Regions from separate parts of the Homo sapiens genome. Here region 2 is reported to be linked to region 1. The links are microRNA targets in miRTarBase. Many come from high-throughput screens and were not tested one by one. Region 1 holds a microRNA gene; the other region holds the end of a gene's coding sequence.

Region 1 (4,356 bases):
TATTAATAGAATTCTGTAGCTGGTACTGAAGGAAAAGGCGAAACTCCCCATCTCTCAGCACACCTAACGGAGATTCCTTTCCTATCACTCCAGGCTATCACCTTATCTAATGTAAAAGATGTGATATACTTGGCACAGTTTACTTAGTATTGCATATTTTCTTTTTGTATTTTTTTTTTGTAGAGATGGGGATCGTCTCGCCATGTGGCCCAGGCTGGTCTCGAACTCCTGGGCTCAAGTGATCCTCCTGCCTCGGCCTCCCAAAGTGCTGGGTCAGGCATGAGCCACTGCACCCCGCCTAAACATTTTCTTTATTTTTAATTTTTATTTATTTTTAATTTTTTTCGAGACCGAGTCTCACTCTGTTGCCCAGGCTGGAGTGCAGTGGCACGATCTCAGGTCACTGCAACCTCCGCCTCCTGGGTTCAAGCGATTCTCCTGCCTCAGCCTCTGGAGCTAATTTTTTGTATTTTTAGTAGAGACGGGGGTCTCACCAGGTTGGCCAGCCTGGTCTCAAACTCCTGACTTCACGTGATCCGCCCGCCTCAGCCTCCCAAAGTGCTGGGATTACAGGCGTGAGCCACCATGCCCAGCTCTTTATTTTTTTAAATTTATATTTTTGAAATAATTCACCGAAGGTGTGGGTGGGAGTGAGGGTTGGGTTTAAGGTTAAGACAGGTGGGCCGGGCGCGGTGGCTCATGCCTGTAATCCCAGCACTTTGGGAGGCCGAGGCGGGCGGATCACGAGGTCAGGAGACTGAGACCATCCTGGCCAACGTGGTGAAACCCCGTCTCTACTAAAAATACAAAAAAAATTACCTGGGCGTGGTGGCGCCCGCCTGTAGTCCCAGCTACTCAGGAGGCTGAGGCAGGAGAATCGCTTGAACCCGGGAGGTGAAGGTTGCAGAGATCGCGCCACTGCACTCCAGCCTGGCAACAGAGCAAGACTCCGTCTGGAAAAAAAAAAAAAAAAAGATTAAGACAGGTGAAAGATATTTGGCCGGGCAGATTGCTTGAGGTCAGGAGTGCGAGACCATCCTGGCCAATATTGTGAAACTCTGTCTCTACTAAAAATATAAAAATTAGCCAGGCGTGGTGGCTCGTGCGGGTAATCCCAGCTACTCAGGAGGCTAGGGCAGGAGAATCGCTTGAACCTGGGAGGTGGAGGTTGCGGTGAGCCGAGATCGTGCCACTGCGCTCCAGCCTGGGCAACAAGTGCGAAACTCCGTACCCCCAAGAAAACAAACAAACAAACAAACAAAACAGGCGAATGAGGAATGCGCGCTAATAGGGAGTCTGTGGTGGGAATTCGAGAGGAAGGTGACCCTGAGGAAGCACTGTATGGTGCCCGGCATGGGCTGGGCTGGGCTGGGCTGGGCTGGGCGGCAGCGCCTCAGAGCCAGGCCTTAGTGAGGAGACTCGCAGGACGCGGCTTGGGTGGCAGGTCTGGGAAGGTTCCTTCCGAGAGCTATTGGGACAGGTTTAGACCCCCCAAATGGCGACCTCGAACTTAACCCTTTGTGCCTCAGTTCTCCCCCTCTGTAAAATGAGTATAATGGTGACTTTCTCACAGGACGCTTTAAGAACTAAACGAGGCCTGGCCGAGGGCGGTAGCTCACGCCTGTAATCCCAGCACTTTGGGAGGCCGAGGCGGGTGGATCACGAGGTCAGGAGATCCAGATCATCCTGGCTAACACGGTGAAACCCCGTCTCTACTAAAAATACAACAATTAGCCGGGCGTGGTGGCGGGCACCTGTAATCCCAGCTACTCGTGAGGCTGAGGCAGAGAATTGCTTGAACCCGGGAGGCGGAGCTTGCAGCGAGCCGATATTGCGCCACTGCACCCCAGCCTGGGCGACAGAGCGAGACTCCGTCTCAAAAAAAAAACGAGGCAAGGCAAGCAAAATGCTTGGCGTAGTGCCTGACTCATCGTAGGCCCTCAATAAATGTTAGCAATTACCACCATTTTCTCAGCATCTGCCCTTCACTGGGGAGGCACTAATGAGAAGGGGCAAAAAAGCCTTTCCGAGACCATCCTGTTTCCCAGTCCGGGTTCCACCACCCGAGCATGCGAACCCAGGGCGTTGGGAACCCAGCGCGCACCCGTCGAGGGGCGGGGCCTGCCGTTCCCGCCTCGAGTGTGGCCCCGCCTCCACCTCCTTCGTCGCGGCCTCTAGTGCACTTTCGGCTCCTTCCCCTTCCCGGGCCTTTCAGCTTGGTCTTTCCGGGCCTCGCTTCCCCCAGCCCCTGCGCCCGGCCCGAACGAGAGGTTCCGGAGCCCCGGCGCGGGCGGGTTCTGGGGTGTAGACGCTGCTGGCCAGCCCGCCCCAGCCGAGGTTCTCGGCACCGCCTTGAGAGCTTCAGCTGCCCCAGGGTGTGCAGGTTTGCTTTAGAGGGTCGGCGGGCGGAGCTTCGGGGAAGAGGAGCTCTGGGAGAGTCATTCCGGCCAGTGGCCGGAGACCGTCGTCGCTCTTGGGAATCCTTGGCCGCCCAGACAGAAGGGAAGTAGGCGCCGGAGAGCCCGTTCTGCATTTTGATTCATCTCGGGCCCTGTAAGGGTCATATCTTGTGAAAATAACCTGTAAAATCAATTTAACGTTCAGTGCAGCGTGTAAAGACAGCTCTAAGAATTTAAAAGACGCCTGAGTCAGAACATTTAAATGCTTGGGTCCCTGTAGCAGCGTTTTAACACGTCTGAGTGCAGAGGGTGGAGAATCGAGCCTGATTGCCGTTCACGCCCTGTAACCTTTAAGAAGGGTAAAGAAAGGCACCCTAAAAAACGCAAGGGGACACTTACCCTAGGGGGGGACGAACAGCTAGCTTTTTGGAATTTGGGTTGGTCTTCATTTCCAAGTGCGAAATTTGCCTGCAAAACTTTTTATTTGCAGTCATAGATCAACGATAAACAGAATTGTTAAAACACTGAACTTAACTAAGTAGTGGCTTTTGTTGACAAGTCGATTGTGTTATTAATTCTTAATGTCTCATCCAAGGCAGGAATCGTTATCTCAGTTTTGCAGGTGGGAAAAGTTTGGCACAGAAAAAAGCATTTTCCTTAAGTTCTCAGAAGCAACGGCCGGCCGAGCTGCAAATTAAGTCCCAGCATTCTGCCTCCTCAGCTGCGTCCCCCTCTAGACCATGTTAGAAAACAAATGAGTAGTTACTTTGATGTTACTCATAAAACGATCGAGTAAACCAAATGTTCTATAAACATGAAGCGTTAAATCATAATAACCTTCAATGCCTGTTCAGCTTTGGGAGGCTCAGTTGCCCTTTGGAGTTTGATACCTTGCAGAGAGGAGGGGCAGAGCAAAAACATGAAAAGTAATGTCAAGGGAAAATTTTTGTCTCCTGAGGTCAAACTGTGCCCATCTTTACTGCCCCTGTGTTGGTGTCATTCCTTTCAGCGCACTCCATGTTCTGGCAAAACACCCACAGCTCACGTTCTCGTTGTAGCCACATTACACCTTTGCATTACTCTTTTGCCACTGACCTCACTGTCAGTCTTCTTGTCACGCTGTTTCCTCCAGGTGCTCTTTTCTTAGGCTGTTATGTGAAAACCAGTTGTTCAAGTGTGGAATGATTTGTCATTCCTGAAGGATGATTCTAGAGTTAATGATAAAAAAAAAAAAAACTACCAACAGATCTTAGACAAAAAAAGAAGCACAAAAAAACTATTATGGAATTTGATAGCTGAGTTATTTGGGGGGAAAAAGTAGACTTTGATTTTTTTCCCTTTTCCCCCAGTTCACTCATAACTGGGAAGCTGCAGCTCAGTTTTAACTTTGGCATAATGGTGGTGGTGGTGGAGAATCCTCTTGTTTAGACTCAGTGAATTGGAAAGTTCTCTTTTTAGGATGCTCCTTTTGGACAGCTTGGAGCAAGTGGAAACACATGTGTGCTTAGAATGTGACATGTTTTGGCACTTGTAAATCTGTTTGTCCATAAAGCTTGTGTAAGAGCTTGGGACCCAGGATGTGTGGTATAGGCCCTCTGTAAAAGTCATCCTTGAGGTTCCTTTCCAGCTTGTGGACAGCAGAAATTTGAACATAAGGTAGTGTCCTTGGAGCAGCCAGCTGTTTATTCATCTTTTTGTTTTCTTTCACTTCTTGGTTCCACAGATTAGAATCCCAAGAAAATCAAATGGCATCCGGGGATTTCTGCTCACCTGGAGAAGGGATGGAAATACTTCAACAAGGTAAGAGTAGCCACTTGCAAAAGGTTTGATGATTTATCCAGAGAGGTCTTATCCAGGTTCTTGCCTTTTCTAGTAAAAAGCATTTATTGGCTCACACCTGTAATCCCAGCACTTTGGGAGGCTGAGGTGGGTGGATCACGAGGTCAGGAGATCGAGA
Region 2 (4,396 bases), not on the chromosome of region 1:
GGGGCATTGTTTTTATTGATGTCTCTTCCATTATTTTACTGAATGGAATATATATACATATAAATTAGACTGAAATATATATATATATATGAACTGGAGAAGCAACCCTCACCAGTCTTGCTCTTTTTCATTTACATATGACATTTTTGTAACCTTCTCTTTTTGGTTGAATTAATTCATCATCAATGTTTGTTCATGCAGGCATAAATAATGAAAATGCCTCTAATATATAAGTGATGTCACATGCCCAATTACACTGAACACAAGCACCCTCACTGCCCAGGGAGTCTTGTTGGAATGCCATCGCTGATACAGCTTGATCTTTAAAAAAAAAAAAAAAAAAAAAAAAATCTGTACATTCATTACTCACTTGAGCCCAAAGGTCAATATATTCAGTAATAATCAGAAACCATGCTAAGAAGCAGGTTAATATTTACCTGGAGAGGCTGGTCTAAAGAGTCCTGTTTCAAATAGCTAAGATCAAAACACGGGAAAGAACTGAATTTCCAGCAACAGTCTCAGGTTCAGTTTCCAGTTTAGCGGGGAACAACACTGAATGAAATGACAGTTGAAATGTCTATACTAATTTTCATTTCGTATTTTGTGCACAATCTATTTTATGGTGCAAATTCTGCCTTTACTTCTCCAGTGCTTTTTATCCTCCCTCTGAACTTATTCATAAAACTTAGGGGCCAAGGGTAAGATCTAGGTCAGCCACATCTTTCATGTTCATCACAGGCATTCTCTTTCAACCCGTATTTTGGTGCCAGAGGAGCTACCATTACTTTGGTGCACAGAACCAACAAGAAAAAAGATCGCAAGGTTGCAGAATCCAGTGATGAAAACAGAGGCAATAAGAAGTAACTGTCTTCTACCATGGTGAAGCAGATGTCAAAAGAAGCTTGTAACCACTGCTAGGGTCTGGCACTCCTGCAAGCAGGCACTGATGTATCTAGTCACCATGAACACCAAAAATTAACTAGAAACTCTTCCCTTTTTTACTTTGAAACGAGTCGGTCAAAGACATGAACATTCAGGTAGGGTAACAAGCACATGTGTGAGAATAGTTTTTAGGTCCTTCCTTGTCAGAGGAAAGCTGATAACACTGGAGAAAAAAAATGCTCATGTTCTAAAGCTACAAGATTTTTAAAGCAGCAATGAGCCAATGCATTTATAAGAAGAGTAGAAAATTGTAAACTATAAAATTTGGTTAGGGTCAAGAGAAAAGGTTCAACTAAAAAGCCATAAAAAAGACAAAGCTAAATTCATCTGGAATTCTAGAACAATGCTGATACAGTTAAGTGATTATAGTCACCATAATATTAAAGATTTAAGATGTTCAATGCATGAATATTTGATTTTATTTCAAAAGACAATTATTTATAACACTGACCCTCTATCAAAAAGAATATGCTTTTCTGATGGGGAAGTGACAAAAAAAAAAAACTACACAGAACAAGAGTAATAAAGTTCTCAAGTAAGGATTGCACTCCAATAGGAATTGAGTGATTCTCTCAGAGAGCACTCATTACATCTTAGACAACGTCACTCTTCTTTCCTCTTGGCCATATGTTCAGGTCTCATAGTCTTTCTGAACACAGAATGGCAGTGGCCAGCATTGTCCATTATCTATGTTCCGCTTGTTTACTAATTAAAAAGCTTTGGTCTTCAGTGTTGTAAACGCAATTTCTGCCTTCGATATCAAAAGGTGAGTGAATGAGACAAGATTAGTTGAAGGAAGTACTTGATATTTTACTCCAGATAGCTGAATGAAAATGGGTATTCTCCCTTGTACTTTGGAGTCCATCGTTTCCTACTCCCAATGCTCTCACAGACAGTAAATAAAATAGTTTAACTCGCAAATCTTTTACAAGGATGTTCAAAACAATATTCTAGAGAAAACTTTATTGATGGTTGAAAACAAAATAAAATACACATAAGGTTCCCTTCCCATCTCTAATATGGAAAATAAAACACTTAATATGAATACTCAGTTTTAAACTTTGCTCTAAGTTTTATTTTATTTTATTTTGAGATGGAGTCTTGCTATTGCCCAAGCTGGAGTGCAGTGGCGAGATCTTGGCTCACTGCAACCTCCGCCTCCCAGGTTCAAGCGATTCTCCTGTCTCAGCCTCCCGAGTACCTGGGACTACAGGCACCTGCCACCATGCAGGGCTAATTTTTGTATTTTTAGTAGAGATGGGGCTTCACCATATTGGTAAGGCTGGTCTCGAACTTCTGACCTCAGGTGATCTACCTCCCTCAGCCTCCCAAAGTGCTGGGATTACAGGCATGAGCCACCACCCCCGGCAACTTTTTTAATTTATATTTTATTTTTTATTGAAATAGGTGGCCCAAAACTTGTGAAACAGAACTCATGCTGAAGGACGACATTAATCATAATAATTAAAGAGACAGATATTGCTTATGTAAACCGTATAAAGAATTAAAAACAAATCCAATTCTGACTTTCAATGTTGTTTCAACACCGAAAAAATATGATGGCTTATTCTTTGGTATGAGAAGTCATTTTGATGGTATTTTTACCCTATTAAACAAAAATGGGATTTAAAAATCTGGTTCGGGATGTTCAAAGATAATTGCTAAGGCAAATTTTGCAATTTGAGAAAACCTAACTGTAATGATCCATTTATTCAGTTATTTGTTAATACTCAAATTAGTAATTTTCACTCTGAATGGTAAATAAAATGTTAATAAAAAATAACAAGACATATAAACTTTCCCTAATGAGATGCAGTTAATAAAAACGGTTGTTTACTTCAGAGTATTTACTATAAACATGTCCACTTATGTTATTTTATTGCTATCTATATACTCTTTCAGTTTACTGTATTACTGTACTTTTCTCTAAAACTTTAAAAATCTGTTATCTAAAATCAATTCTCTAATGCTAATTTTGCAGGAAAACTGTATTTCACATTATTAATCTCATTAATATAACTTTCCTATAAATAAGCATGAAACATTTGGAGGATGCATATATAATGAGTGCTTGGTTACTATAGTAGCGAATGTCAAACTAATTGCTAAAAAAAGTCTAAAGGTTTTCACACTTTGAAAAATCTAGTATATCATCTATCATTATTCTCCAATATTGTGGCAAGAATAGTCACCGCAAGTAAAAATTAAGATACTGTTGTAGAGATTAAGGCAATTTTATTATAAATTCCTGATATATTCCACCCCTGCCTGTTCTTAATCTAAATGTAATTTAGCACTGCAAACCATTTATGAAAATAAATTTATTTTAAAAGGCATAAAAGTTATTAGTGTAAAAAGAAAAAATATCTATACCTACAAAAAAGGCCAAAGACACTAATGAAGTTACCTCAGTAAAGATACTGTAACATGTAACTTGGCCAGCCAAGTTACAACACATTCCTCACAACTGTATTATGTCTCAAGGTTCTGAGGATCTGAAAGGTCTTTTGATCCACCTAAAAGTGGCCACCAACCAAATTAATTTCTCTGAAAGACATCTTTAAGCAATTATTTCAGCCTAACCTCGCTTCATATGGACTCACTCAGATGGCTCATGTTTTATTAGGGACTTGAAGGTTTAAAAATATGTAGTCAATCCAGGGCAAAGTTATGTTGTTTGCCTATTTGTAAAATTAACACATACAGAAAATAAGATTCAAACTGATATTGAAAAAGACTAACATATTCATCTAATTTTAAAAAAAAACCTACCAATAGAACAAAATATATTTTATTTTAATTATACCAGCACAGTAAGGCCCAGAAAGACCATGGAGTTGCACAAAGAATGTTCAGCACCAGCAAGATAAAACAGATACTGGCAGTCAGTGCTAACGGCTAGCACACAAGCCCCTGCCGCATTTGTATGATCTGGAGCAGAGCCTCCTGAACATCTTCATCCATGTGACCCTTCGGAGAAAGAAGAAAGAGGAGCATTATTTTATGTCATCTTTGTTTACATAAGAATTCTAAAGATAAAGCTTTTACAGAGCATAACTAGTCATTGATTCATCAAATGCTAAATCCTCATCATTGTGATTTCTAAAGGAATTACTGGAAAAGGGAGTACAGCCCTATCATGAAAATAAGATCAATTAATAAGGAGTGCACGGCCGGGCGTGGTGGCTCACGCCTGCAATCCCAGCACTTTGGGAGGCTGAGGTGGGTGGATCATTTGAGGTCAGGAGTTCGAGACCAGCCTGGCCAACATGGCGAAACCCCATCTCTGGTAAAAATATAAAAATTAGACGGGTGTAATCCCAGCTACTCGGGAGGCTGAGACAGGAGAATCGCTGGAACCTGGGAGGCAGAGGTTGCAGCGAACCAAGATTGTGGCACTGCACTCCAGCCTGGGTGACATGGCGAGACCCCATCTGAAAAAACAAAAAGACTA

What was found. Region 1 holds the annotated microRNA hsa-miR-4707-5p (GCCCCGGCGCGGGCGGGUUCUGG, at 2,279-2,301, shown strand). A microRNA usually pairs through its seed, bases 2 to 8, with sites in the 3' UTR of a target mRNA and lowers its output. Matches are read on the target gene's strand: a 7mer-m8 pairs with bases 2 to 8, a 7mer-A1 pairs with bases 2 to 7 and ends in A, and an 8mer does both.
Region 2: the mRNA of UACA is a reported target of hsa-miR-4707-5p. Seed matches in the 3' UTR shown: 7mer-m8 at 2,305-2,311.

Annotation. Positions count from the first base shown.
Region 1 is chr14:22,954,943-22,959,298 of GRCh38, reverse strand. It overlaps MIR4707 (microRNA 4707), which reads left to right and starts at 2,270; the gene lies at 2,270-2,349. It overlaps HAUS4 (HAUS augmin like complex subunit 4), which reads left to right and starts at 2,209. Exons shown (of 10, transcript NM_001166269.2): 1 at 2,209-2,383; 2 at 4,123-4,199. The coding sequence starts at 4,145. RefSeq lists a silencer at 687-1,047 and enhancers at 847-1,425, 1,426-2,005, 2,388-2,517.
Region 2 is chr15:70,653,216-70,657,611 of GRCh38, forward strand. It overlaps UACA (uveal autoantigen with coiled-coil domains and ankyrin repeats), which reads right to left. Exons shown (of 19, transcript NM_018003.4): 19 at 1,339-3,912. The coding sequence ends at 3,841. Among named protein-coding and RNA genes, the nearest start is that of SALRNA2, 20 kb to the left of the region's middle.